4 linked regions of the Homo sapiens genome follow. The protein of the gene in region 3 purifies or fractionates together with the protein of the main gene of each other region. This does not show direct contact. Each region holds a gene or a part of one and is shown on either strand. Other genes may lie near its edges.

The links. The genes of interacting proteins can lie anywhere in the genome.
Region 1: the proteins of CEP78 (region 3) and CEP350 purify together in Homo sapiens (affinity purification with western blotting; one study listed by BioGRID). This does not show direct contact.
Region 2: the proteins of CEP78 (region 3) and LRRTM4 purify together in Homo sapiens (co-immunoprecipitation; one large-scale study listed by IntAct). This does not show direct contact.
Region 4: the proteins of CEP78 (region 3) and RNF10 purify together in Homo sapiens (co-immunoprecipitation; one large-scale study listed by IntAct). This does not show direct contact.

What each region holds. Positions count from the first base shown.
Region 1 is NC_000001.11:179,961,310-179,964,809, reverse strand, and holds part of CEP350 (centrosome-associated protein 350), read right to left. Parts: intron 1-3,500. UniProt on the Homo sapiens protein: Plays an essential role in centriole growth by stabilizing a procentriolar seed composed of at least, SASS6 and CPAP. Required for anchoring microtubules to the centrosomes and for the integrity of the microtubule network.
Region 2 is NC_000002.12:77,512,377-77,515,876, reverse strand, and holds part of LRRTM4 (leucine-rich repeat transmembrane neuronal protein 4 isoform a precursor), read left to right. Parts: intron 1-3,500. UniProt on the Homo sapiens protein: May play a role in the development and maintenance of the vertebrate nervous system. Exhibits strong synaptogenic activity, restricted to excitatory presynaptic differentiation.
Region 3 is NC_000009.12:78,277,133-78,280,190, forward strand, and holds the end of CEP78 (centrosomal protein of 78 kDa), read left to right. Parts: 3' UTR 1-2,558; downstream 2,559-3,058. UniProt on the Homo sapiens protein: Centriole wall protein that localizes to mature centrioles and regulates centriole and cilia biogenesis. Involved in centrosome duplication: required for efficient PLK4 centrosomal localization and PLK4-induced overduplication of centrioles.
Region 4 is NC_000012.12:120,540,856-120,544,355, reverse strand, and holds part of RNF10 (E3 ubiquitin-protein ligase RNF10), read right to left. Parts: intron 1-3,500. UniProt on the Homo sapiens protein: E3 ubiquitin-protein ligase that catalyzes monoubiquitination of 40S ribosomal proteins RPS2/us5 and RPS3/us3 in response to ribosome stalling.

The DNA.
Region 1 (3,500 bases), on a different chromosome or scaffold from region 3:
AAGCAAGATAGATAAACCTCTAAGTAAATTAAAAAAAAAAAAAGTGAGAAGATCCTAAGAAGCATAATCAGAAATGACAAAGGTGACAGAACTCATACTACAAAAATACAAAAGAGCCTCAGAGACTACTATGAACATCTTTATGTGCACAAACTAGAAAAACCAGAGGAAATGGATAAATTCTTGGAAACACACAACCTCCCAAGATTGAACAAGGAAGAAACTGAAATCCTGAACAGATCATAACAATTTACAAAATTGAATCAGTTATAAAAACAAATCTACAAACCAAAAAAAGACCAGGATCAGATGCATTCACAGCCAAATTATACCAGACAAACAAAGAAGAGCTGGTATCAATCTTACTGAAACTACTCCAAAAAATCAAGATCACACTGAATGGACAAAAGTTAGAAGCATCCCCTCTATGAACTGAAAAAAGACAAGGATGTGCACTCTTACGACTCCTATTCAACATAATACTTTCCATCCTACCCATAGGAATCAGGCAGAAAATTAAAATTTAAAAAAAGGCATCCATATAGGAAAAGAGAAACTCAAATTATCTCTGTTCAACCCTAAGGAGTCCTTCAAAAAACTCCTAGACCTAAGAAAAAGACTTCAGTAAAGTTTCAGGATGCAAAATCAACTTACAACAGTCAGTGGCATTTCTATATGCCAATAATGTTCAAGCTGAGAACCAAATCAAAAATGCAATCCCATCTATAATAGCCACATGAAAAATAAAATACCCAGGAATAAATTTAACCAGGGAGGTGAAAGATTTCTACAAGGAGAACTACAAAACACTGATGAAGGAAATAACAGATGACACAAACAAATGGAAAAACATTCCATGCTCATGGATTGGAAGAATCAAAATTTAAATGACCATACTGCCCAAAACAATCCAAAAATTCTATTCCCATCAAATTAGCAACATCATTTTTCACAAATTAGAAAAAACAATTCTAAAATTCATATGGAACCAAAAAAGAGCCTGAATAGCCAAGCAAAAAGAACACAGCAGGAGGCATCACATTACCCAACTTCAAACTATACTACAAGGATATCCTAACCAAAACAGCATGTTACCAATACAAAAACAGACATCTGTATCAATGTAACAGAATAGAGAACCCAGAAATAAAGCCATACACCTATAACCAGTTGATCTTGAACAAAGCTGACAAAAGCAAAAATGGGGAAAGGACACCTATTCAATAAACAGTGCTAAAAAGAAAAAAAAACCCAAAAAACACACAAAAAAACTGGCTAGCATGTGCAGAAGAATGAAACTGGACCCCCTACCTTTCACCACATACAAAAATTAACTCAAGACGTATTAAAGACTTAAACATAAAACCTCAAACTATAAAGATCCTATTTTAAAAAACCTAGGAAAAACTCTTCTGCACATGGGCCTAGGCAAAGAATTTATGACTAAAACCTCAAAGGCAAATGCAACAAAACAAAAATTCATAAACAAGATTTAATTAAACTAAAAAGCTTCTACATAGCAAAAGAATCAACAAAGTAAAGAGGTAACCTAAAGAATGGGAAAAAAATATTTGCAAACTGTACATCTGACAAAGGACTAGGATCCAGAATCTACAAGGAATCTCAAACAAATGAACAAGAAAAAAAAAATAACTCCATTAAAAAGTGAGCAATGGACATAAACGGATACTTCTCAAAAGAAGACATACAAGTGGCCAACAAACATATGAAAAAAATGCTCAGAATCACTAATCATCAATAAAATACAAATTAAAACCACACTGATACCATCTCACACCAGTCAGAATTGCTATTATTAAAGAGTTAAAAAATAACAGATGACAAGGATGCAGAGAAAAGGGAGTATCATACACTGCTGGTGGGAATGTAAATTAGTTCAACCCCTGTGGAAAAGAGTAGAGGGATTTCTCAAAGAACTTAGAACTATCATTAGACCCAGCATTCCCACTACTGGGTATCTATCCAAAGGAAAAGAAATCATTCTATCAAAAAGACACTGCACTAGTATGTTTATCACAGCACTATTCACAACAGCAAAGTCATTGAATCAAACTAAGTACCTATCAACAGTAGATCAGATAGGCCGGGAGCAGTGGCTCATGCCTGTAATCCCAGCACTTTGGGAGGCCGAGGTGGGCAGATCATGAGGTCAGGAGTTTGAGACCAGCCTGACCAACATAGTGAAACTCCATCTCTACTAAAAATACAAAAATCAGCCAGGCATGGTGGCATGTGCCTGTAATCCCAGCTACTCAGGAGGCTGAGGCAGGAGAATTGCTTGGACCCGGGAGGCGGAAGTTGCAGTGAGCCAAGATCACGTCACTGCGCTCCAGCGTGAGCAACAGAGCGAGACTCTGCCTCAAAAACAAAACAAAACAAACAAACAAACAAAAAACAGTAGATTAGATAAAGAAAATGTGGTACATATACACCGTGGAATACTACGTAGCCATAAAAATGAATGAAATCATGTCCTTTGGAGCAACATGGATGCAGCTGGAGGTCATTATCCTAAGCAAATTAATGCAGAAACAGAAAATCAAATATCACACCTTCTCTCACTTGTAAGTGGGGTCTAAACAATAGGTAAATATAGACATAAAGATGAAAATAAGATACTGTGGATTCCAAAAGTGGGAAAGGGCCGGGCGTGGTGGCTCACGCCTGTAATACCAGTACCTTGGGAGGCCAAGGTGGGCAGACCACTTGAGCTCACAAGTTTGAGACCAGCCTGGCCAACATGGTGAAACCCCATCTCTCCTAAAAATACAAAAAATTAGCCGGGCATGGTGGCTCGTACCTGTAGTCCAAGCTACTCGGGAGGCTGAGGCAGGAGAATCGCTTAAACCTGGGAGGCAGAAGTTGCAATGAGCCTAGATCAAGCCACTGCACTCCAGCCTGGGTGACAGAGACTCCATCTCAAAAAAAAAGGTGGGAAGTGACAGGTAAGGGGTAAAGGTTGAAAAACAACCTACTGGGTACTATGTTCGCTATTTCAGTGATAGGTTCAACAGAAGCCCAAACCTCAGCATGATGCAATATACCCATGTAACGAACCTGCACGTGTATCCCCCACAACCCAAATCTAAAATAAAAGCTAAAGCGTAGTCTAACTTCATTTATAACTAACCAGAGAAACAAACCGTATTAAAGCTGGACGTTAGGAGTCAACCAGCATCATATTATCAAGTGTGTAGTCATGACCCGTTAGTAGATTAAAACAAAACAAAACAATATCGTGGATTGGAGCTAGCATTTTTTTAATGGAACTAAATAGGATTGATTTGCAAATATCAAGTGTATTGAAGGTAGTGAGCGCTTTATTTTATTTTATTTTATTTTTGAGACACAGTCTCTCTGTCGCCCTGGCTGGAGTGCAGTGACGCGATCTCGGCTCACTGCAACCTACACCTCCCAGGTTCAAGTGATTCTCCTGCCTTAGCCTACTGAGTAACTGGGATTACAGGTGCGCGCCACCA
Region 2 (3,500 bases), on a different chromosome or scaffold from region 3:
ATTGTTATAGGGAAAACCCTAATTACTTCTTACTTCTTTGTCACTCGGAGTAAAATTTCTCCTGTTGAGAAATATTCCTTTGGACAAAATCTCTCTACAAAATAGAGCCAAGAGAGGGCAGCGATTTGCCCAACTTTACAATGTTTTTGGAATAGTATAAGTATGCTGAGTTTTAGCTTGGCATTGTTTTCATAAGTCTCATATATCACTAGTTTAGCAGAGAACCATTAATATATTTATAAGACATTTTTGTGAGGTAGGTTTTTTTAAAAAAAAATTAAAAACACCAAACTCTACCCAATAAAGCCATAAATATTTAATTGGAAAACTTAGCACCAAATGCTAATTTTCTAAGATAGTGCCTTGAAGAAATAAAAATTGCATTAAATTAAAAACTCTACTTTCCACCTAACTTTATATTCAGTTACCATGACCTAAATATGGTTACAATATCCATTTTGCTTGTTTCTTTTAAAAGGATTTTTTAAATTGAGATTATTAGATTGGCGTTTGTGAGCCTCCACACAAATATAGCATGCAATTTTCAAATTAAATAATTTTCTCTATGTTTTGCAAGTTTTAATTCTGAAAAGTCTGTGTGCACATACCATTCTGATAAAATGAGGGATAATATTTTAATAATTTGGGCAGTAAAAATTGTTCATATCTATAAAAGAGAAATAGAGTAGATAGTTATGAGTAATTAATATGAATTATAGCACAAGTATAAGGGATACATACATCCTAATCATACTTTGAGTGGATCAGTGTGCTTGGTTGAACTGAATCATTCACTTAGTACATACATCCTCAGTATGTACTCAGAAAAGAGAATTTAAAGCCAAAAGGATACAGCTTTTCCTAAAACAGTAAGGTGTTACTATATAGACAGGAAATGCAAATATTTACTTTGAAAAATAGCTTGTGAAGCTTGGCATAATGTTATCTCATTAAAAAATATGACCAGGGATATAAAGTTGCTTCATTCTGTATATCAATTTTTTCCTTCGAAATTGTAAAGAACAAAGTTTTGAATATCTAGTTCTTCTAGGATTTGTTTTATCAACTGAAAGTAGCAGCGGCCTTTATATATTAGCCAATGTGAACAAAGGACAAGAAAGAATATTTGTAGTTTGTTTTGTACATTAAAAAAAGTTAAATTGGTGAAAATTTAAAATGAATGAATGTAGTCTCTAAAGAGACTCTCCATCCAAAGTGTTTCAATAGTTAAGTAATTGAAATATAAAGTTTAATGATCCTATAGTGCTAACAGTGCTGCTATTAGGAAAATGGCAGTAAAGGTGACAATATAGGTGTATATTTTCCAAATATTTAATATTTTCATTACTTTCTTCAAAATTGAGCAAAATTTTAAAAATATACTGGTTTTCAGTTCAGGTTATATAATTTCTTTGACTGTTATGCAGTGGGTGGTATAAACCATTTCTAACAACTTTTATTTATGGACTATGTTAGGTCAGGTTCAAACAACTGGTATAAAGTAGACCACTTAACTTCTTTTCACACTTTAGATATTGATATTCTTCAGTGTGCTAAGTGAATTTCCAAGGACTACTAAGCATAATGTATATATAAAGAGGACTCTAAGGAAAGCAGACCCAGTTACCTTGAGTTTAATTAACAGTTTATCGACATACAGCTATAGAAAACAAACTTTATTTAGGTGGCTGACTACAACTGTGTCATGGTACAATGTTATGATTGAAACTGTATTTGTATATTTAAATAGGATGTGTGTGTGTTTGTATGTGAGTTTATCCATGTATGTATGTCTGTATATATATATGTGTGTGTGTGTTTGTGTGTGTGCATATAAAGACAAAATAGAAACATATTTCCATCAGAATTAATGTCCATCAAAATTAATTAAATTTTTTTACGACAATTTAAATTATTAGTAACAAATATTTGTTAAAATCACCAAGATTTTTTAGTTAGGAATATGGCCCTTAAGGTAAATGTATTATCATATCTGAAAAATTATAAGTATCGTCAGGTGCAGTGGCTCATGCCTGTAATCCCAGTAATTTGGGAGGCCAAAGTGGGTGGATTACTTGAGGTCAAGAGTTTTAGACCAGTCTGACCAACATGGTGAAAACCTGTCTCTACTGAAAATACAAAAATTAGCAGGTCATGGTGGCGCACAGCTATAATCTCAGTTACTAGGGAGGTTGAGGCAAGAGAATCGCTTGAACCCAGGAGGCAGAGGTTGCAGTGCAAGATTGCACTACTGCAGTCCTGCCTGGGCAACAGAACAAGACTCATCTCAAAATAAACAAATAAAATATAAATTATAAGTATCTTACATCTATGTAGTCTAAAATTCTTTTTCAAAAAACAAAATTTAACATAGTCAAGTCTGTATTTGTACTACATATTGCCATTTTTTGTGTTGCTTTAGACTTGTCACTTCGTTTCTCTGTGACGCATCTCTCAAACGAGTGACTCAGCTAGCACAGTGTTTCCCAACACAAAGCAATTCTCGGATTAGTATAAAGTTTGTAAAGTCTCTATGGTCATTCTCAGAACTGAAAAAGCAGGATGAGCTGTGGAGAAAAAGACTGAGCTACTTACATTCATTTGTCAATGAGAAAAGAAAGAACTTCTTCAGTTACTAAAAACTGGGGTGCCCAGGTGAGCAGCCATACAATTTCTTTATGCTTGAGGGGAAAATATGTAACTCACGCATACACATGTGTGAGCACATGAGTGCACACTCCCACACACGTATATGTCTTTGAAATTCTGCTAAGTAACTAGATATTTTGAAAGCACTTAAAACTATGTCTGCTTTTTAAAAAATCGATTGTCTGAATTAGGTCCAATTAAAATCTATTTGTGAATAGAGTTTTCATTAGAATTCACAAATGGTAGTGGTGAAGAGTGACAGCTGCCAAAAAAAGACCGACATAGCTAATTTAGGAAAGATTTTAAACTGACAATAAATGGCCCTTTTCTTTTTCTAGAATTAGCTGGTATTAGCATCTCACGGACAAGGTTTTCATAAATGATTGCTCTTGAAGACTCCCAGCTGAGAAGTCTGTGGTCTTAGGAATGTGTAGCTTTTGACACACCCCAATAATATCCACAGGATACCAGAATTTCCTTCTTGAGACTTTTCTGTGTTTATAAAATGTAATCATCCCTAGTTCTTCTCAGGAATTGCATTTAGAGATAGTTTTATGCTTTAGGAGTTGCTCAGTAATATTTTCACTGGGGACTTGGTGACTCATCTGAATTTTCATGTCTCTAGAGTTTCATGATTCACTAAATCAAAGTGAAGCAGAAGCAACCTGTATATCACTAGACACTGAGAGTTTTGAAAAACCAGTATGTCTTTTGATCAGTGAAAAGCATGAAGTGATGTTGAATACATTTTAAAAATTAAAATTGCTTTTTATAGTACCAGAAGAACCATCATTCATTGAGTCAGTTTAATAAAATCTCAATATTCATGAAAGGAAAAAGAAATTACAGGG
Region 3 (3,058 bases):
TTCTTATTTCATATCATGGATGAAAAAAATCAAGATGAATTAAACATGGAAATTAAAAATAACTAGAAGAAAATACTGGAAAAAAATTGTAATAAATGTGTAAGAAAGGCATTCCCAACCAAGACACAAAACCCAGTAGCCATGAAAAAAAAGATAGATTTGACTACATTTTTAAAAAGTAAAACCTTTCACTTTTTACAAAACTTTGATAAAATTAGATTTCATAAATAAAGGAGTGGGAAAATACATGTAATAGAACAGAAGATTTAAGATAATATAAAGAGCACCTACAAACAACAAAAATTGGACAAAGGCTATAAAAATATTTTATAAATAAGAAATACAGACTATAAACATAAACTTTCAACCTCGTAAGCAATCAGGAAAATTAAAGTTAAAATGAGATACTATTTTTCAATACATTGAAATGGCAGATTATTAAAGATTGGTGATAGTGCTGGAGATAATGTGAGGAAAGGAGTATTCTCAGTCATTGTAGAAATTGATACAGCTTTTGGATGGACAGTTTGACAGTGTGTATCAACATGTGAAATGTCTCCAGCCTTTGATCTAATGACTAATTTTAGGCATCCAGCCTGAAGAAATATTCACACAAGTGCCCAAAGAGTCAGATACAAGACTGTGTGAAGTGTTTTTTGAGATAATAAAAAACTAGAAACAGCATAAATGTACAGAAATGCAGAAATTGTTGAATTAGTACATACCAATTTCTGACATATAACACTCTGCAGCAGATAAAGACAATAGCTCTCTAGTGTGGACATGAAAATATTTCTAAGACATTGACAGGACGAAGAAGTTGCACAGTAACCACGCACTCCTGTTTACATTTGTATAGTTAAAACTTGTTTACCTATACGTAGCATATATGCGTGTGTGCACCCTAGAAAAGAGTCTGTGATAACACATATCAAGCTATTGACAGCGGTTTTGTCTGCTGAAGGAGGAAAAAAGGGGGGCTTCTCACATTTTACTCCATTTAATTCTAGGTTGTTTGGTTTAAAAAAAAAGTTTTTATGTACAACAGACAATTTTTAAAATTCCTTTTCATCATAGAAAATGAAAATGTGTACTCTGTTATCCTTTACGCTCTGTCCATTTTTTTCTTCAAAAATGTGTCTGACCTATTATCAATGTGAATGAAAATGAGCTTTGCTACATAACCTCTTTTCAGAGCTTTGTATTCCTGAAGTGTTGGAGTCGCCTACATGGCATAGTCAAATGTTTTTAACTTAACCACAACCCACAGTAAAAATGAAGCTTTCTGCAAAGTTAAAAGTAGTAGTCCTGGCCCCACCTTCCTTGTGTGCACGTATAATTAATGGAAAATTGCATCAAACAACTCTGATTGTACTTCTAGTGACTAATTCATGTTCTGTTCTATTCCTTGCCTTTAAAGAAAATTATGTTGGCAACTCACGAAGTATGTTTCACAATCCACTAATGGGTAATGTCCTACTGTTTGGAAACACTGGCTAGAGTGTTTCAAACATCTGCTCTGTTTACCCCTGACAAAACTGCTACTCGTGGGGCAATGCAAGTCTTTCCCACATTTGTTTTATTTTATGGCTAAAAGTCATTTCTGCATTTGCAAATTACTTCCAAAGCCTACCTTCCTTGAGCTCTTTAACTCTCTATAGTCTTCTGGTAATTTTCTTTAGATTTCCCTTTTCAGAACCCTTTTGTGACACTGAAAACCTGAGTTTTCAAACTGATACATCTACCTGAGAATTTTCACATATAATTTGGTCAAAAAGTTAAAAAATAAGAAGACTTTGCCCTGTGACTGAGGTGCTCAGAAGGTATGGCTGGCTGCTCACAAAGGCACATAGTGAGTGATAGGGGCTGAAAGGGCTCAGAGAATGCCCGAGTTCTCTTAGTACAGTTTGTACATTTTAAACCACTGTGAACTGAAAAAAAAAAAAAAGGCAACCTTGGTAGTTTAGAAATAGATAAGGACCCACTTATAGATTAAATAATAATTAGCTTGTTCCAGAGAGACCAGTGAAGATTAGTTGGTTTATTTAATGTGTTAGAAAGATGGTCCTCAAAGTCCTTGAAATGTGAAGGCGGCTTTTATCTCCTTAAGAAAACAAGAAAACTCCACAAAATCTTGAAAGCTAGATAATCCTAGCTTAAATGATAAAATTTGAGTAGAGTTTGAAAACACTAAAATCAGTTTGCCAAATAACCAGCTCTAATTTCTTTATACCAAAGCCAAACTTCACCTAAATCTTACCTAAGAATTGAGTTCCTTATTGTAACCAGATAGGAGACACTTTTGTATATTATTCCAAATATTGCAAACCTACAAGGAGTAAAAGGTGTTATTATTTTAAAGAAGAAGGAATGAGGCCTGAGAGGTATTGATTCACTTGGTTGAGGGCTTCAAGTAGCACAAGGCAAAAGCAGGATTTGTTGACTTCCAAACCTGTTTTCTTCCTTCACCATGTGGCCTTTGCATCTTTCCCACACAAATATTATTCCACAAATATTTATTGTCACCAACTATAATAAAAGAACAGAACTATGTATCAGAGAGGCTGCAGGAGTGAGTTCTACCCAGGTCCACACTGCTGCTCACAGTCAAGTAAACTGCAGGCCGTTTTTGTGATGCCTGGCTGGAACGGCAAGTGAGGCATGGTATTCATTGGCTGGGCGCGGTGGCTCACGCCTGTAATCCCAGCACTTTGGGAGGCCGAGGCGGGCAGATCACGAGGTCCGGAGATTGAGACCATCCTGGCTAACACGGCGAAAACCCGTCTCTGCTAAAAATACAAAAAAATTAGCCGGGCGTGGTGGCGGGCGCCTGTAATCCCAGCTACTCGGGAGGCTGAGGCAGGAGAATGGCGTGAACCCGGGAGGCAGAGCTTGCAGTGAGCCGAGATCATGCCACTGCACTCCAGCCTGGGTGACAGCGAGACTCTGTCTCAAAAAAAAAAAAAAAATGGTATTCATTTTCTCTTCTTTAGGGACACCTAGGCTTATATCACTTTCTACAGTTGCTCTCTTTTCCAATTCCAATTTAGTTGGTATA
Region 4 (3,500 bases), on a different chromosome or scaffold from region 3:
TAGAGTTGGGGTCTCACTTTGTTACCCTGATTGGTTTCCAACTCCTGGACTCAAGCAATCCTGCCTCGGCCTTCCAAACTGTTAGGATTAAAGGCATGAACCACCATGCCTGGTTTATCTTTTTTTTGTTTTTAACAGTCTCACTCTATTGCCCAGGCTGGAGTGCAGTGGCGCAATCTCGGCTCACTGCAACCTCTACCTCCCGGGTTCCAGCAATTCTCCTGCCTTGGCCTCCCAAGTAGCTAGGATTACAGGCATGAGCCACCACGCCTGGCTAATTCTGTATTTTTAGTAGAGATGGAGTTTCGCCACATTGGCCAGGCTGGTCTCGACCTCCTGACCTCAAGTGATCCACTCACCTCGGCCTCCCAAAGTACTGGGATTACAGGCATGAGCCACCATGCCCAGCATGTTTTATTCCCCCAGGGTGGAAAGCAGTGGTGCCATCATAGCACACTGCAGCCTCAACCTCAGCTTAGCATCTTTCCAACTCAGCCTCCCAGCTAGGACTGCAGGTGTGCACCACCACACCCAGCTAATTTTTAAATTTATTTTGAGACAGGATCTTACTTTTGTCACCCAGGCTGGAGTGCAGTGGCATGATCTCGGCTTACTGCAGCCTCCAACTCCTGGGTTCAAGCAATCCTCCTGCCTCAGCCCCCCAAGTAGCTGGGACTCCAGGCATATACACCATTCTTGGCTTAATTTATATTTTTGATATAGACGGGGTTTTGCCATGTTGCCCAGATGGGTCTCAAACTCCTGAGCTCAAGCGATCCACCAGCCTCAGCCTCCCAAAGTGCTGGGATTACAGGCGTGAGCCATCAGGCCCGACCTAATTTTTAAATTTTTTTGTGCAGACGGGGGTCTCACTATGTTGCCCAGGCTGGTCTCAAACTCCTGGGCTCAGGCGATCCTCCAGGCTCAGGTGATCTTCCCACCTCAGCCTCCCAAAGTGCTGGGATTATAAGCATGAGCCATGGGGTCTGGCCCCACTTTTATCTTATTACAATGATTCTCAATCTTGCCAGTTCATAGGAATCACACAGATGAGCTTTTACGGAATTCCTATGCTCAGGCCTCACCCTCTAAGATTCTGATATAACTATACTAAAGTACCTGTCTGCAGACCTGTAATATTATCTGAGTAATTTTTTTTAAACTTAGAAAAAATTATTTCTTGGTAAGTACAATCACCAGCTTTTTATAGCAGGCTAAATAAATTCAAGGTTAAACAATGCCTCAGAAAGAAGAAAATGTAAGTTAATAAATCAGAGACCAAATTTTGAAAGCAACCACTTCACGCCCATAGTCTGTCAACCTCACTGTATAAATGAGATGTCATTCTCTCCAAACCTGACCACCTAAAACCTGGGAGTCAATCTAAACCATGTGAAATGGCAGCAATGTAAACAGAACAGTCACAGAAACAGGCTAGGTTCACTCCTACCAGTTACCCTTAAATCCTGCTTACGGACAGTGACCCTTACCTTAGTTACAATTTAAGGCCAGGCATGGTGGCTCCCTGTAATCCCAGCACTTTGGGAGGCCAAGGCAGGCAGATCACATGAGGCCAGAAGTTCGAGACCAGCCTGGCCAACATGGTGAAGCCCCATCTTTACTAGAAATACAAACATTAGCCAGGTGTGGTGCCACACGCCTGTAATCCCAGCTACTTGGGAGGCTAAGGCATGAGAATCATTTGAACCCGGGAGGCAGAGGTTGCAGTGAGCTGAAATCACGCCACTGCACTCCAGCCTGGGCAGCAGAGTGAGACTCTGTCTCAAAAAACAAATAAATAAAGTTAGAACTTAAAAACTAAACTTTTACCTATTACTTCAGTTAGCAACAGTTAGTGTCAAACATGGCACTAGTAGTAACAATTAGAAAGCAAAGTTTCAGCGCTGGACTTGGTGGCTCATGCCGGTTGTCTCAACACTTTGGGAAGCCAAAGCAAGAGGATCACTTGAGTCCACGAGTTTGCGACCAGCCTGGGCAACATAGCAAGACCCCATCTCTACAAAAAATTTAAAAATTAGCCCAATGTGGTGGCACACACCTGCAGTCCTAGCTGAGAGGCTGAGTTGGAAGGATTGCTTAAGCCAAGGTTGAGGCTGCGGTGTGCTATGATGGCACCACTGCTCTCCACCCTGGGCTACAGAGTGAGCCTCTGTCTCAAAAAAAGAAAAAGGCCAGGCACGGTGGCTCACGCCTGTAATCCCAGCACTTTGGGATGCTGAGGCGGGTGGATCACGAGGTCAGGAGATCAAGACCATCCTGGCTAACATGGTGAAACCCTGTCTCTACTAAAAATACAAAAAATTAACCAGGCGTGGTGGCGGGAGCCTGTAGTCCCAGCTACTCAGGAGGCTGAGGCAGGAGAACGGTGTGAACCTGGGAGGCGGGGCTTGCAGTGAGCCAAGATTGCACCACTGCACTCCAGCCTGGGAGACACAGTGAGACTCCATCTCAAAAAAAAAAAGAAAAAGATAAACCAGGCACAGTGGTTCAAGAGTTCAAGGATCTCTTAAGCCAAGGAGTTCAAGGTTTCAGTCAGTTATGTTTGCACCACTGCATGCCAGCCTAAGTGACAGAGCGAGAGCTTGTCTCTAAAAAAAAAAAAGCCAGGCACGATGGCTCATGCTTGTAATCCCAGCACTTTGGGAGGCCAAGGCAGGTGGATCACGAAGTCAGGAGATAGAGACCATCCTGGCTAACATGGTGAAACCCCATCTCTACTAAAAATACAAAAAATTAGCCAGGCTTGGTGGCGGGCGCCTGTAGTCCCAGCTGCTCGGGAGGCTGAGGCAGGAGAATGGCGTGAACCCGGGAGGCGGGGCTAGCAGTGAGCGGAGATCGTGCCACTGCATTCCAGTCTGGGCGACAGAGTGAGACTCCGTCTCAAAAAAAAAAAAAAAGGAAAACTCAGGGGATGCAGAACCCCAGCTAACTCAGCCACATTCTCTTGCTTTGCTTTCCTTAACTCCATTTCACATCACCTCAAGCAAAGGAGATTCTACGAGGATAGGTATATAAAGAAAACACATATCCTCCAACCTCATTATCCAAGACTGTTTCAGATGATCCTGGACCCTACCTGTTTGACCCTAACTGCTGCTTTCAAGATGCACCTCACGGTTTGCATAGATTTAGGTAAAGCCAGATTCTACATGGCAAGGGCTTATTAAGAAAGTAAAATGGCCAGACACGGTGGCTCATGCCTATAATCCCAATGCTTTGGGAGGCCGAGGCGGGCGGATCACCTGAGGTCGGGAGTTCGAGACCAGCCTGACCAACATGGAGAAACCCCGTCTCTACTAAAAATACAAAAAATTAGCTGGGCATGGTGGCGCATGCCTGTAATCCCAGCTACTCCGGGGGCTGAGGCAGGAGAATAGCTTGAACCCGGGAGGTGGAGGTTGCGGCAAGGCCGAGACTGCACCACTACACTCCAGCCTGGGCAACAAGAGCAAAACTCTGTCTCAAAAAAAAAAAAAAAA